2 linked regions of the Homo sapiens genome follow. The protein of the gene in region 1 interacts with the protein of each later gene in a biochemical or structural test. Each region holds a gene or a part of one and is shown on either strand. Other genes may lie near its edges. The genes, in order: ZP3 and ACR.

The links.
Region 2: the proteins of ZP3 (region 1) and ACR form a complex in vitro, tested with the Homo sapiens proteins (one study listed by IntAct).

Annotation. Positions count from the first base shown.
Region 1 is NC_000007.14:76,420,404-76,428,301, forward strand, and holds the start of ZP3 (zona pellucida sperm-binding protein 3 isoform 1 precursor), read left to right. Parts: upstream 1-4,546; 5' UTR 4,547-4,561; coding exon 4,562-4,873; intron 4,874-7,898. UniProt on the Homo sapiens protein: Component of the zona pellucida, an extracellular matrix surrounding oocytes which mediates sperm binding, induction of the acrosome reaction and prevents post-fertilization polyspermy.
Region 2 is NC_000022.11:50,733,588-50,741,406, forward strand, and holds the start of ACR (acrosin precursor), read left to right. Parts: upstream 1-4,616; 5' UTR 4,617-4,648; coding exon 4,649-4,725; intron 4,726-5,683; coding exon 5,684-5,887; intron 5,888-6,106; coding exon 6,107-6,390; intron 6,391-7,819. UniProt on the Homo sapiens protein: Acrosin is the major protease of mammalian spermatozoa. It is a serine protease of trypsin-like cleavage specificity, it is synthesized in a zymogen form, proacrosin and stored in the acrosome.

The sequences.
Region 1 (7,898 bases):
TGCCCACATACAGCTAAAACATGTTGGGATCTTGATAGAAATTACAGATTAATTTTGGGAGAATTGAAATAGTGATGATATTGCATTTCCCATCCATGAACATGGAATACCTCTGTAAATTTAGACATTCTTTACTCTGACTGCCAATACAGTTTTGTTAATTTTTCCTCAAAGATCTTACATATCTTTTTTTGTCTGTTTTATACCTAGGAACTTCATATTTTGTTTTAGCAATTGCTTTTGGAACTTGGTTAACAGCATCGTCTTCTGTCTCACTTGAATCTGACACAGAGAGTTTTTTATGTTTTTGGTTATTTTTTGTTTTACTTTTTATTTTGAAATTAAACTGATGAAAGTTGCACAGATAACACTAAGAAACCTGTTTACCTTTTACCCAGGTTCAGCCAATATAAAGATTGATACATATCCTCCCTCTCTCCCTGTATCTCTTTATATTTATGTCTATATATAACATATATATACACATACATATATATTTCCACGTGTGTGTGTGTGTGTGTGTGTGTCTCCACTTTTTTTTTTTTTTAGTGAGACTAAGTCTCAGTCTGTCACCCAAGCTGGAGAGCAGTGGCACAATCTCAGCTCACTGCAACCTCCACCTCCCAGGTTCAAGTGATTCTCTTGCCTCAGCCTCCTGAGTAGCTGGGATTATAGGCGTGTGCCACCACGTCAGCTAATTTTTTGTATTTTTAGTAGAGATGGGGTTTCACCATATTGGCCAGGCTGGTCTTAAACTCCTGACCTCGTGATCTGCTCGTCTCAGCCTCCCAAAGTGCTGGGATGACAGGCGTGAGCCACTGCGCCCCGCCATTTCCACATTTTTTTGAGATGAGGTCTCACTCTATTGCCCAGGCTGGAATGCAGTAGCATGATCATGACTCACTGAAGCTTAGAACTCCCAGGCTCAAGCAACCCAAGTAGCTAGGTTCCCAAGTAGCTAGGACTACAGCTTCCCAAGTAGCTAGGACTACAGGTGTGTGCCAACATGCCTGACTAATTTCTTTGATTTTGTAGAGATGGGGCCTCACTGTATTGTCCAGGCTGGTCTCGAACTCCTGGGCTCAAGCAATCCTCCCACCTTAGCCTCCCAAAGTGCTGAGATTACAGATGTGAGCCATTATGCCTGGCAGATTTTTAATTTTTTAAAATTATATATATATACACACACATATATATGTATAATTTTTTTTTTTTTTGAGATGGAGTCTCGCCCAGGCTGGAGTGCAGTGGCGCAATCTCGGCTCACTGCAACATCTGCTTCCCAGGTTTAAGCAATTCTCCCACCTCAGCCTCCTGAGTAGCTGGGACTACAGGCATGAGCCACCATGCCCAGCTAATGCCATTAGTTTTTGTATTCTTCCTCCTCTCTTGCAGGAATTTCACCCAGGGACAGCATAGAGTAGGCCATTGGTAAATGCTGTACCTGTCAGTCCTTCATCATCTCCTGATAGGACCCTTGCAGTAGACTTTTGTTGTTGTTGTTTTGTTTTGAGACAGAGTGTTGCTCTGTTACCCAGGCTGGAGTACAGCGGCGTGATCTTGGCTCACTACAACCTCCACCTCCTGGGTTCAAGCGATTCTCCCGCCTCAGCCTCCCAAGTAGCTGGGATTACAGGCATGTGCCACCACACCAGGCTAATTTTGTATTTTTAGTAGAGACGGGGTTTCTCCATATTGGCTTAGGCTGGTCTCGATCTCCTGACCTCAGGTGATCCGCCCACCTCGGCCTCCCAAAATGCTGGGATTACAGACATGAGCCACTACGCCCGGCCAATACTATTCCTTTCATGGCCTCTTTTTCCCACAGGGCTAAGTCCAGCATCTCAGCCTGGCACCCACAGGGTTCTGCCCCGCCCACCTCCCCGGCCTCCTAAATTGCTACTCTCACTCCCAGGGACCTGAGGCTTCACCAGGTTACCTACCCCAACCATGGGTCCTCAGGCCCTCAGTGCAATAGAAATTGACATGAGGTGGCCAGGCGCGGTGGCTCACGCCTATAATCCCAGCACTTTGGGAGGCTGAGGCAGGCGGATCACCTGAGGTCAGGAGTTCCAGACCAGCCTGACCAACATGGTGGAACCCTGTCTTTACTAAAAATACAAAAAGTAGCTGGGCTTGGTGGCAGGCGCCTGTAATCCCAGCTACTCAGGAGGCTGAGGGAGGAGAATTGCTTGAATCCAGGAGGAGGAGGTTGCAGTGAGCTGAGATCGCGCCACTGCACTCCAGCCTGGGCGACAGAGCAAGATTCCGTCTCAAAAAAAAAAAAAAGAAAGAAAAGAAATTAACATGAGGGCCAGGCACAGTGGCTCACACCTGTAATCCCAGCACTTTGGGAGGCCGAGGAGGGAGAATCACTTGAGGTCCAGAGTTCGAGACCAGCCTGGCCAACATGGTGAAACCCCGTCTTTACTAAAAATACAAAAGTTAGCCGGGCATGGTGACGGGTGCCTGTAATCCCAGCTACTCGGGAGGCTGAGGTGGAGAATCACTTGAACCCAGGAGGCGGAGGTTGCAGTGAGTCGAGATAGCACCACTGCACTCCAGCCTGGGCGACAGAATGAGATCCTGTCTCAAAAGAAAGAAAGAGAGAGAGAGAGAGAGAGAAAGAAAGAAAGAAAGAAAGAAAGAAAGAAAGAAAGAAAGAAAGAAAGAAAGAAAGAAAAGAAATTGACAGGAGGCTAAACGAGTTTTCCTAGACAAAGCTTCATTGGAGCTTATGCCCAGACATAAAGGAGGCAGCATGAGAGAGAGAGGGAGAGAGAGGGAAAGAGAGAGGGAGAGAGAGGGAAAGAGAGAGAGAGAGGGAAAGAGAGAGAGAGAGGGAAAGATATAGAGATTTTTCTATCTGACTCTCCAAAAAGAGCCAGGAGGGCTTTTTTATTAGGCAAAGCATGGGAATTTACATCAGGGATAGGGCATGCCGGCTGTGCTGGGCAAAGCACGTGAAGGTATGCAGGTTGGCATTATCTGGTTGCCATGGTTATCTTGAGTTATGGGCCACCTGGTAGTCTGGCTGGTGGCAACAAGGCTGTCAATCAGTTCAGCATTCCTTCCTGAGGTGGGACACTCCACAACCTTGGTTTGATATTTGAATCTCCTAAGGTCAGTTCCTGGGATTCTCTTAAGTAATAGGCATGTTTCCACATGATGATGTCAGTGAAATCGTGGTATGGGTCTGGTGATCACTGGGAATGCAGGAAAGAATGCAGTGGTTGGGCCAGGTGTGGTGGCTCATGTCTGTAATCCCAGCACTTTGGGAGACTGAGGTGGGCGGATCCCTTGTGGTGAGGAGCTGGGCATGGTGGAACAAGCCTGTAATCCCAGTTACTCGGGAGAGTAAGGCAGAAGAATTGCTTGAACCTGGGAGGCGGAGGCTGCAGTGAGCTGAGATTGCACCACTACACTCCAGCCTGGGCAACAGAGTGAGATTGTCTCAAAAAAAAAAAAGAATGCCCTGGTCGGGGTGAGCTGAAGCCAAGCCCCGCTTCTGCTGTGTCTCAGTATGAACTCCGGGGGATTCACCCAGGAATGAAGAACGCAGGGCCCCTTCTCCACCTCTCTTCACACAGCTGCCTCTGCCTGAACTGACCTACCCCCCGGCCTCCCATAAAATAAGGCAGAGACCCATGAAATTCCTCCTGTCTCCTAATTGATACCGCCTCCTTTTTCTCACACTTGGAATGAGCTCCTTATGTCTCAGATCTAATCCCCCTGACTCTTCAATCAAGGGCTTTCTCCTGTGTCCCCCACAGACCTGGGACAGCTCCCTTGCCGGGCTGCGAGCTTCCTAAGGGCAGGGCCAGCAGGGGATCGGAGGGAAGCTGTGATACATTGTGGTGCACCAGGCAGGCAGCACACTCTTTGCAAACTTTTACATGAATACACATGGGGATTTACAAGCTAAAAACTTTCAAGTGGGCTGGGGCGGGCGCGGTGGCTCACACCTGTCATCCCAGCACTTTGGGAGGCTGAGGCAGGAGGATCACTGGAGGTCAGGACTTCAAGACCAGCCTGCCCAACATAGTGAAACCCTGTCTCTACCAAAAATACAAAAATTAGCCAGGCGCGGTGGCGCATGCCTTCCTGTAATCCCAGCTATTTGGGAGTCTGAGGCAGGAGAATCACTTGAACCTGGCTGAGAAGTGGAGGATGCAGTGAAACGAGATCATACCACTGCACTCCAGCCTGGACAACAGAGTGAGACTCTGTCTCAAAACAAAACAAAACACAACAAAAACAAACAAACCACAAACACACACACACACAGCAAAAAAAAACTTTAATGTGGATACACGTGGGGGATTTCCAAGCTAAAAACCAAATTCTGCTGTGGTCATGCTGGGGTGAAGGCTGAGAGTTTGCAGTTCTAACAAGCTCCCAGGTGTTACTGATGCTTCTGGATGGAGACCACTTTATGCAACAAGGGCCCAGCTGGCTAGGGAAGGGAGGCAGCTGAGAAGCTGAGAGCCCAGGTGGCAGCAGCCAGCATCCCACGGGTATAAGATGGCCAGAGGCGGCTGCCTGCTGCTCTGCAGGTACCATGGAGCTGAGCTATAGGCTCTTCATCTGCCTCCTGCTCTGGGGTAGTACTGAGCTGTGCTACCCCCAACCCCTCTGGCTCTTGCAGGGTGGAGCCAGCCATCCTGAGACGTCCGTACAGCCCGTACTGGTGGAGTGTCAGGAGGCCACTCTGATGGTCATGGTCAGCAAAGACCTTTTTGGCACCGGGAAGCTCATCAGGGCTGCTGACCTCACCTTGGGCCCAGAGGCCTGTGAGCCTCTGGTCTCCATGGACACAGAAGATGTGGTCAGGTTTGAGGTTGGACTCCACGAGTGTGGCAACAGCATGCAGGTAAGAGAGGCTGGGGGCCCTGGCTTTGGTGGGAGGATGTTCGAGGCAGCCGGGTATGGGGACTGTGGCCACCATCGGTGGGAGGTGGGGTTGGGTGGATCCCTCTCACTTGTAGGTGGGGAGGTGGCCCAGTTGAGGCCTGAAGCTGGCACTGAGGTCACCGGACCCAGGGCAGCTCCTGCCTCTGATGCCCGACATTGGGTCGATGGGGTGGAGCCAGAGGTGGCCGTGCACTTCAGGCTGGCCCAAGCCACGCCACTCTCTCTCAGGTGGGTTTGTGACACACACAGGCCTGCGTGATAGGATAGCCCTGTGGGTAGCCTAAGGGGCTGTTTCTAAGGCTGGGGGCATTAGGAACTCATCCTGAAGAGACCCAAAGTATACATTATCTTAAAAACAACAAGTGGGCCGGGTGCAGTGGCTCATGCCTGTAGTCCCAGCACTATGGGAGGCCAAGACTGGAGGATCACTTGAGGCCAGGAGTTTGAGGCCAGCCTGGGCAACATAGTGAGACCCCATCTCTTAAGCCTTTAAAAAAACTAACTGGGGCCTGGTGTGGTGGCTCACGCCTGTAATTCCAGCACTTTGGGAGGCTGAGGAGTTTGAGACCAGCCTGGCCAACATGGTGAAACCCCATCTCTACTAATAATACAAAAATTAGCCAGGCATGGTGGTGCGTGTCTGTAATCCCAGCTACTCAGGAGGCTGAGGCAGGAGAATCGCTTGAACCCAGGAGGCAAAGGTTGCAGTGAGCTGAGATTGTGCCACTGCACTCCAGCCTAGGCAACAGAGCGAGACTCTGGCTCAAAAAAAAAAAAAAAATTCCACATAGATAAGTGGTATGGGGGCGGGGGCATCATAACCTTGGTGTTAAAGACCTTAAAAGCATCAGTGGGTCCCTGGGGGCAGCTCCAAGGGGGAGAGGCTTAACCTGTGGTACATGCAGGAAAAGACCAAGAAATCCAGGCCAGACCTCCCTTTCCCTAGCCAGTGGGGAAAGAGGCTGCAAGGAGAGGCCTTACGGCAGGGCAGGGCTGGGCACACAGCTCCCCAGCTAAACCCTGATCCCTGGACCAAGTTCCTGTGGTCCCATGGAGGGCCTGTCCTCTCCCGCCTCAGGGGAACCTGGCTCCTCCTCACCTGGGCCTAGACCCAGTAGCTTGCCTGGGATGGGGGCAAGTCCAGCCCCTGGAGCCCTCCGGCCAGAGCTCTGGTCTTAACTGTGGTCTCCTGGGCTCTCTTTGAGGACTCGAGGCCCTTGTTTTCCTGGGGAGGGAGGCCAGAGAGCTGCAGGAGTTACTTGAGGAATTATTCCAGTTTAGAGGCTCACAAACATGTCTTAGATTTACTTGGGGAGCCAGGTGCCTGGCTCCCCCCCCTTCTGTGAAATGGGCTTTAATAGGTTAGAAGCTGATAAGTGGTATTTTTTTGTTGTTGTTTTTGTTTTTTGAGACAGTTTTGCTCTTATTGCCCAGGCTGGAGTGCAATGGCGCCTATAATCCCAGCACTTTGGGAGGCTGAGATGGGAGGATCACTTGGGCCCGGGAGTTTAAGGCCACCCTGGGCAACATAATGAGACCCCCTTCTCTACCAAACACCACACACACACACACACACACACACACACACACAATAGGGTGTGGTGGCGCCTGCCTTTAGTCTCAGCTACTTGGGAGGCTGAAGTGGGAGGATTGCTTAAACCCATGATTTGGAGGCTGCAGTGAGCTACGATTGTGCCACTGCATTCCAGCCTGGAAGGCAGAGCAAGACCCTCTTTTATTAACCCCACCTGTGGAGCTTCTAAAAATCCTGATGTCCAGGCTGCTAAAATAGAAAGGATGTGGGACCAGCTGTGGGTAATAAGGATCTCAGGTGACTCCAATGAGGAGCAAAGCCTGCAAACTCCTTCCTCTGGTGTGGTGTTTCCCAGTTTTGCCCGGTGAGAATCACCTGCGGCTGGCCGTGCGCAGTGGCTCACGCCTGTAATCCCAGCACTTTGGGAGGCCGAGGCGGGTGAATCACGAGGTCAGGAGTTCAAGACCAGCCTGGCCACGATGGTGAAACCTCATCTCTACTAAAAATACAAAGAAGTTAGCCGGGTGTGGTGGCGGGCACCTGTAATCCCAGCTACTCAGGAGTCTGAGGCAGAGAATTGCTTGAACCCGGGAGGCGTAGGTTGCAGTGAGTTGAGATCGTGCCACTGCACTCCAGCCTGGGCAACAGAGTGAGACTCCGTCTCAAAAAAAAAAAAAAAAAAAATACAGCCATGGCCAGTTTCCCAGGTATACAACCTGTGCAGTTCTGTGGGGCCCAGTGCTTAATGGAATGCCCTCTTGCCCTGAAATGGTAATAACTTTTGAATAAGGGGCCCCACGAGCTATGCTGGTTCTGTCTGTGCTGGGGCACTTGCTAATAAGGTCTAGGACTATTCCCTGAAGATCGAGTTTGGTCAGGGCCAGGCAGCCACCTGAGCTCTTGGGCAACTTCGACCTCCTAGGCTCAAGCCATCCTCCTGCCTCAGCCTCCTGAATAGCTGGGATGGACTACAGGCACATGCCACCGTGCCCAGCCAAGTTATGTTTTTGTAGAGATGGGGTCTAGCTCTATTGCCCAGGCTGGTCGTGACTTCCTGGCCTCAAGCAATCCTCTTCCCTCCCAAAGTGCTGGGATTACAGGCATGAGCCACTGCACCCAGCCCTCAAGTAGTTTTTAAATAAGCTCCCTGAGATGAGAGGTGGGGATAGTGAGCTTAGAATAGGTGGTTGGGGGTTGAGTCATGGTGGCTCACACCTGTAATCCAGCACTTTGGGAGGCTGAGGCAGGTGGATCACCTGAGGCCAGGAGTTCGAGACCAGCCTGGCTAACATGGCGAAACCCTGTCTCTATTTAAAAAAAAAAAAAAAAGGCACGGTGGCACGTGCCTGTAATTCCAGCTACTCAGAGGCTGAAGCAGAGAATTGCTTGAACCTGGGAGGCGGAGGTTGCAGTGAGCCGAGTTCGTGCCACTGCACTCCAGCCTGGGTGA
Region 2 (7,819 bases), on another chromosome or scaffold:
CCCCACGGCTGCAGACCAGATTTAGCCCTCACTCCTTCCCTGCTGATTCACTGGTTTTCTGTTTCCATTTCTGCCCTCTGCTGACAAACACCAGCCTGTCTGTAAATGCAGCTGATGGATGGACCCCGTGAGCCAGTCCGGCCCAGCCAGTGCTGCCGTGGCCCTGCCAGCATCCCCTGCTCCCTCCCCATGCACACATGCTGCTCGCCAGTCTCCCCCCACCTCCTGCAATCCCTGAGCCGCTATGACGCTTCAGGGCTCTGTCTCACACATGCCCTCTTCCTTCTGCCTGGATCACCCATCGTTTGCCTGCATCAAGCATACATAGCTTGGAGGCTGATCTCCGGATCCTGTCTTCCAGGACGTTTTCTCTGACCCGCCCTCCCTGGAGTCCCAGTTAGATGTTAGGCTCTGCGTCTGCACGGCCCTGGTGCTATCTCAAATTAGAGCAAGTTGGTGCTTCTCACCTTGGGTTGTCTGCCCAGTTGGATGTGAGGTTTCCTTTTTGCTCCCACCCTGAGCACCAGAGACAAGACATTGTCCTTCAGGAGCGCACAGGCAGTCATGTGAGCAGCCGATAATGTGGCAAAAAAGACACGTCCTGGGTGGCACCTGGTGGGGGTGGCCAGCCAACAGGAGGGACAGAGACCCCTCGCTGAGTGGAAGGAGGTGGTGAGCTATGTCTTGAAGGGCAAACAGTAAGGCAAGTGGGCAAAGGCAATCAAGAGGGAGCCGTGAGAAAGTAGAGGGCACAGGACCCAGCACTGAGGCCAGGGGCTGCAGAGATGTGACGTCCCCGGTGGGGAGGGTTGCTTACAGGAGGGGCAGTGGTTTCAGAGCCTGGACACACTGGGTTGAGGAGGCGCGTGAATATGACAGAATGACAATCGCATACCTTGGCTCTGTGGTTAACCTTAGCCAGGGGTGGGGCCGGTGGCACCGTGGAGAAGTGCCACTAGCCCCAGACTCTGAGTCCCCATGGAGGCCTAGGGCTCCATGTGCAGCCCAGGGAGACCCACCCTCCCGATTCCACACACTCAGGCCCAGAGCGAGTCAGGGGCCCCCTGCTCCCACACTCAGACCCTTGCAGGGCCCCCCTCCTTGACTTCCCGTGCAGCCCTTTCCTTATGATGGCCTCAGTTTCTAATCTGAAAATAAGATGAGGATTAGGAAATGTTGAAAATTTGAAATTGTGTGGCCTCTGCTCTTCCTGTGGGCTGGCACCCCCCAGCCACTCCCAAGACCTGTGGACAACTTTGGGGCAGGGCCAGGACATGGAGGCTGCTTTTGTTTTGTTTTGAGACAAGGTCTCACCCTGTCACCCAGGCTGGAGTGCAGGGGCATGATCGTGGCTCACTGTAGCCTCAACCTCCTGGAATTGAGCGATCCTCCTGCCTCAGCCTCCCAAGTAGCTGGGACTGCAAGCGTGGGCCATCACACCTGACTAATTTTTTTTTTATTTTTTATGAGATGGGGGCCTCATTTTGCTGCCCAGGCTGGTCTAGAACTCCACCCTCCTTAGCCTTTCAAAGTGCTTCGATGACAGGTGTGGGCCACCTTGCCCAGCCTGAGGCTGGTTTTCAAGCTGTCATCAACCATAGCCTCAAAGGGCCTTCGTCCTTCTCCATGGCGCCACCCAGACCCTCACCTGCTTGCTTAAACCACCCCCGAGGCACCTGCTTCCCCTGGGTGAAGACCTGAAACCTACCCCTTTTCGGCCCTCAAGGTTTCACTGCGTCAACCATTCTTACTCCCTCTGGGATCTTCTTGCCTTCCTGGCTGGCTGGACATTGAGGATGGTTGGATAAGGTTTCTGCTCCTCACGGAGGGTGGTGGGGACAGGAATGGAAAAGTAGGGGATTGGGGGCTGGAAGGGATTGGAGATCAGGGTGAGAAAAACTGGGGTGGGAGTTGGATTGCCCAGGTAAATAAGGCATGGGGACAGAAGTGGGCACGGCTGGCGAAGGCAGCGGGTGGTTGGGGTGAGCAGGAGCAGCGAGAATGGCTGGGATGAGCTGGAGGGGTGCCTGGGGGTCAGGGTGGAAGCAGAGAGCAGGGAGGAGTTTGAGGGGAGATGGGGAGCCCCCATCCTGCCCCCTGTGCTGAGCACTCTGCCTCAGCCTGAGCCATGCCCTCGGATGGGACCCCACCCTCTGGCCCCAGACCTGTCACCCATTTCTCCTTCGCTCTTAGAACAGCATGAAGAAGGTCAGACAAAGTCACTCTGAGTTGAGATGTTTGTTGCTTCCATTAGTTTAATGACAAAATTAAATGGGCCGGGCCAGGTACTTTTCCCGCAACCATCACTATAGCCACGGGCAGGCACGATGACTGGCAGCCCCTTCTAGAATCAGAAGTGGGTAAGCTTTGCGGAGTCAAACTGTAATGGTCTTCTAGAATCCAGACACTGACATTGGGTCTTCAGACTTTTTTATTGATACCTCCTAAATATTTGTAAAGAAATAGGTGCTATCCATTAAAAACACCCGAATAATATTTTCTTTAACAGTCAAAACTTTAATCTTCTTCTTTTTTTTTTTTGAGACAGGGTTTCACTCCCATTGCCCAAGCTTGAGTGCAATGGTGCGATCTCGGCTCACTGCAACTTCTGCCTTCTGGGTTCAAATGATTCTCCTGCCTCAGCTTTCTGAGTAGCTGGGATGCAGGTGCCACTGCACCTGGCTAATTTTTGTATTTTTTGTACAGACGGGGTTTTGCCGTGTTGCCCAGGCTGGTCTGGGGCTCCTGAGCTCAAGTGATCTGCCTGCCTCACCCTCTCAAAGTGCTGGGATTACAGGCATGAGCCTCTGCACTTGGGCCCACTTCTTCAATTCTTCTTGCCATTTCTTGAACCATATTTCCAAAGTCTTTTTCTGGTTATTTATGAGACACAACTTGATGCTCAGTTAAAATAAGTGAGGTCCGCTAACACTCAGTAGTGCAGCTGAAACCTATTCACATTCAAGTCACGAAATAGAACTTGTATGCCCTTCAGCTAGAGGAAGTGGGGCTACCTGACATAAAGGTAGAAAAATCCCCTGACACTCGGAGGAGATAAAGTGTCATGACTTAGATAGGGCATATAGGAGATAGGAGGTTTCATGACTCTCAGGTAAGGGAGATGAGACCTCCAGACAACCAGGAAGAGGTGAGAATACCTCCAGACCTCAGGGGGTTGAGATGAGAACTTTGGACACCCAGAATAGAGGAGATCTCATGATACTCTAGCAGAGGAGATGAAAGCTCCATGCCATTTAGACAGGGATATGAGACTATATTCAAGTAGAGGGTAGGACATGCCCTGGCACCCAGATGGGGGCAATGAGATCTCCCAACACTCTGGTATACCGGTGGAGACTTCAGAACATTCATATAGGTAAAATACAACCTCTTGACATTCAGCTGGAAGATGTAAGACCTCTTGATTTTCAGGTAGAGAAAGTGCGACAGGGTGACACTTGGGTGGTGGAGGTGAGAATTCTTAACCTGTAGGTGGAGGCGATGAGGGCCTCTGGCACTGAAGTGGAAAAACAGAGTTGTTATTTCTTTCAAAGAAGGAGGTGATCACTCCCTGATACTGGGTAAGATATACGAGACCTATTGAACATTCATTTGAGGATGTCATAAGTACGACATTCAGTTAGAGAAAATAGATAAATCAAGATCATCTGATAATCTGAAAACTCAACACTCAGGAATAGGAGATGAGATGTCCTGACACTCAGGTTGGAGGCATGGGACCTTCTGACACCCACTTAGATGATGTGCAACCTATTGACCCTCGGGCTGGTTGAGATCTTACATTCAGGTAGAAGAGGTAAGGCTGCCCTCATGCAGGTAAGAGTGTGACCTCCTGACACTTGCAGGCGATGGGAAATGTTTTAACATTCAGGTGTTTGCAATAAGCATTTGTCACACTCTGGTAGGTGAGATGCTAGTTCCTGATGATCAGATGGGAAAAATGATGCTTCATGATATTCAGGTAGCTGTATGAAAACTCTTGACATTCAAGTATAGGAGAAAACACCTTGCTCCACCTCAGTCACAGAAAGCCGATCTGGAGACATTCAGGATAATAGGAGACCTTGTGATATTCAGCAACGGACAGGAAGGTGGGCTTTGCAGTTGTAAATTAGGAAAATTCAAAATGACTCTTGGAAAAGTGTGTTGATAGCATTCACTTGGAAGAGGAAAAGAAAACTTCCCCAACAACAATTAAGGATCAATTAATCTGCTGACCCTGACTCCTCTGATCCACAAACATGTTGCACCGTCTCATCACTGAAGGGCTGAGCCGCTCCTCAGTCTGTGAGTCTGCAGTGGTCACAGCACGCATGAGAGGCAGACTCTGAACCTGCACAAAGCCAGAGCCTTGGGTGATGTGGGGACCTCGCAAGAGTTACTGGGAATGGAGATCCTGGCCTTGGGACAGAGGGAGTGGGGCTGCACAGGAGTCCCCCATCATCCTGGTGGTGGGGGAGCCTATGCAGGAAGTCAAGAAGTCTCTTCAGCACAAACCAGTTAAGGCGAGGGGCTCTTACCTGGCCTGACTGCTGGGGGTGGGGTGGGGGTCACCCCTGCTGATTGGCCAGGCAGCCACGGAGCTTTGTGAGGTCACTAGGCTTGCAGGCCAGGCAGTGCCAGGAGTATGGTTGAGATGCTACCAACTGCCATTCTGCTGGTCTTGGCAGTGTCCGTGGTTGCTAAAGATAACGCCACGTGTGAGTAAGTGTCGGGGCACCTTGGTGGGGGAAGGATCTTCTGAGGAGCAGGTACCACCCCGACTCCCTCTGTCCAGGGCTAGGGAAAAGGAGGCTGCATCCCTAACCTGGACCCCCCCTGCTCCCAGAATCAGCAGCCTGGAGCCCCCAGACCCTCAGCTTTCGTGGTTTCCTCCAGAGATGGACCCCTCAGCACCTCAGGCTCCTTGTGCCTCTCCCACTCCCCCAGGGACTGACCCCACTGTCTTGAAGACATGAAGTCCTGATTTTGGGAGCCCTTATCCCCCCACAGACAGCTGTCCCAACCCGTGGTTGCCCCCAACAGCCCCAGGATATCATCGCTTCACACCGCTTGCACCCCTACCCCCCAGTAGGCTCTCTCACTCCAAGGTACCCCGAAATACCAACACCTCCCAAGCTATATGTGGCCTCCCACCCGTGACACAGTTCCCAGAGCCTCCACCTCTAGACCTCCACTGCTCTCAGTGTGCCCCCTACACCTGTGGGCCACAGTATCTGCCCCTGGCTGCTATCCCTCCTCCCATCACTGTCAACGACCCCCTTCATCACCTGACTTCCCTGAGTCTCCCACCCAAGATTGGTTATAAGGACCTCAGGCCATTACACCCCTCTGTCCCCAGGCCCCGCATCCCCACCTCTACCCTCCTGTTCTGCCCAGGGACGGGCCATCCCTCAGGGCCCATGCAGCCTGTCCTGGCTTCCTATGGCCTCCTCTTTCTCCATCTGTGACTGCACCCACAAGACCTGAGAAGTCGTGGCCCCAGAACCATTTCCTAGAGCCTGCGGCTTCCTACATAGCGCAGGCTGCCCCTGCTTTCCCAGAACCCGGAAGCTCTTCCCCACTTTTCCCAACCCCATGTCCCTGCCTCCCCTCAGTTGTGGAGTTACAAGGACAGGCTGTGCTCATGCCAGGTTTGAACTGTGCTCTGGTCTCTCCCCAGTGGCCCCTGTGGGTTACGGTTCAGGCAAAACCCACAGGGTGGTGTCCGCATCGTCGGCGGGAAGGCTGCACAGCATGGGGCCTGGCCCTGGATGGTCAGCCTCCAGATCTTCACGTACAACAGCCACAGGTACCACACATGTGGAGGCAGCTTGCTGAATTCACGATGGGTGCTCACTGCTGCTCACTGCTTCGTCGGCAAAAAGTACGTGTAGGGATGCACTGAGGGAGGTCTTCAGAACGGCTCTTCTCAGAGAGGGGCGTTCCCCGGGGATGCTGTGCAGCGTCTCCCTGGGGCTCTGGGCCAAGTGGCTGCAAGACTCCGGGGGCTGGTCCAGACCTTTGCTAGGGGAAGGCCCTGAGGGTCGCTGTCACCAGGCTTTTGTCCAGCCGGTTGTGACCTGGCTTACCTTTGTGCCCACAGTAATGTGCATGACTGGAGACTGGTTTTCGGAGCAAAGGAAATTACATATGGGAACAATAAACCAGTAAAGGCGCCTCTGCAAGAGAGATATGTGGAGAAAATCATCATTCATGAAAAATACAACTCTGCGACAGAGGGAAATGACATTGCCCTCGTGGAGATCACCCCTCCCATTTCGTGTGGGCGCTTCATTGGGCCGGGCTGCCTGCCCCACTTTAAGGCAGGCCTCCCCAGAGGCTCCCAGAGCTGCTGGGTGGCCGGCTGGGGATATATAGAAGAGAAAGGTGAGTATGGGAGCGCCTCCAAGGGGGGACGCTGCTGGCCATTCTCCTGGTGGTCTTTGAGGTGCAGCGGTCACTTGTTGACACCCAGCCAGGCTGCTTTCATCCTCCTCACGGCGCTACACGTAGAGCCATCACTGTGGCCTTCCACAGTCCCCTGTGCCAGGTCACGTGATGGGTGACTCGTCTGGCTGTCTACGGGGGGGCTGACAGCAGGTGCAGGCAGAGCGCAGCGTTGCTTAGAATGGGGTTGAGGCTGTGTCTGTATTTGGCACCTGGGGCCCAAGCTGCTGGATCCTGGAAACAAGCAGCAACCCTGAAACAGCCTTTGGAGAAGAGCTCCAGATAAGGTTATGTGGCCGTATGACAGTGCCTTCCACTCTCTGGGCCTTGGTTTCCTCATCTGTAAATGGAGGGGCTGGATCAGATGGTCTCCAAGCTGACCATTTCCTAACACCTGTGATTCCAGGGCCCAGCCTTCCTGCTTCCAGGCTGTCTTTGTCACCATCAGCAGCCACCTCCGGTGCAGTCATAGCACCAAATCTACCCTCTCCATCTGAGTTACTTGACATTTGCTCTGTAGACTGGGAAGGGGACCGGTGGTTGGTGTGGCTTTCTGTGGGTCATAGGCATCCCTGTATTTCAGGCTTCCTGGAGTGTCCGGCAGGTACCTCTCCATTCAAGACGGGTGTAGCTGTCGCTCTAGAGCTCTGTCCATAACCAAGCTGTCTCTCTCTCCCCTGGCTCCCAGAAGATCTCTTGCCCATCCAACACTACCTGATACACTCGACACCAGATGAGTTCTAGAAGAGTAGGGGGAATTTCTTCCGTACCAGACCAGGCTCACGGAGGGCCCCAGGTGTGACCTAGAACAAATTGTCATTACTGACTCCGTGGTCAGAGACGCCCAGACACCTCTCCCTACATACTTAGGCACACTAGAGATACCATTTATCCCAGAAGCAACAGGTGACCCCATTAAATGGCAGCAGTGAGCAGCAAGGTTTTGCCAGCAGGACAAGACCCAGTAGGACTTGATCTCTGCATGTGACCTATACTTCCAGCTTTCCATAAGTGGTGCATCTCAATCTCTTTTTTTCTTGATAATGGATAATGAGGCTTCTTAATTCAAGGCAATTCAGTCATATGAGTCTAAAACGCAGCCTTTTTTGGGTAACAACAACAAAAAGTCAATAATTTGAGGATTCTTCCTTTAACTCTTATTTCCTTCTCTGAGGGCGTGGTCTAAGTTTCTGACAGGTTTGTCACCTCTCCTGTCCCTCAGGGAAGGGAGTCTCATCCCAGCTGTCCTTGTTCTCACTGGCCTCACTTGACACGTGGCCATCCCCTTCTGGCCTGGAGTGACAGCCTCTATTCCAGCTGCCGATACCCATGGCTCTGCCCTGGCCTCTGTCCAGCCCCCTAGCCTGCC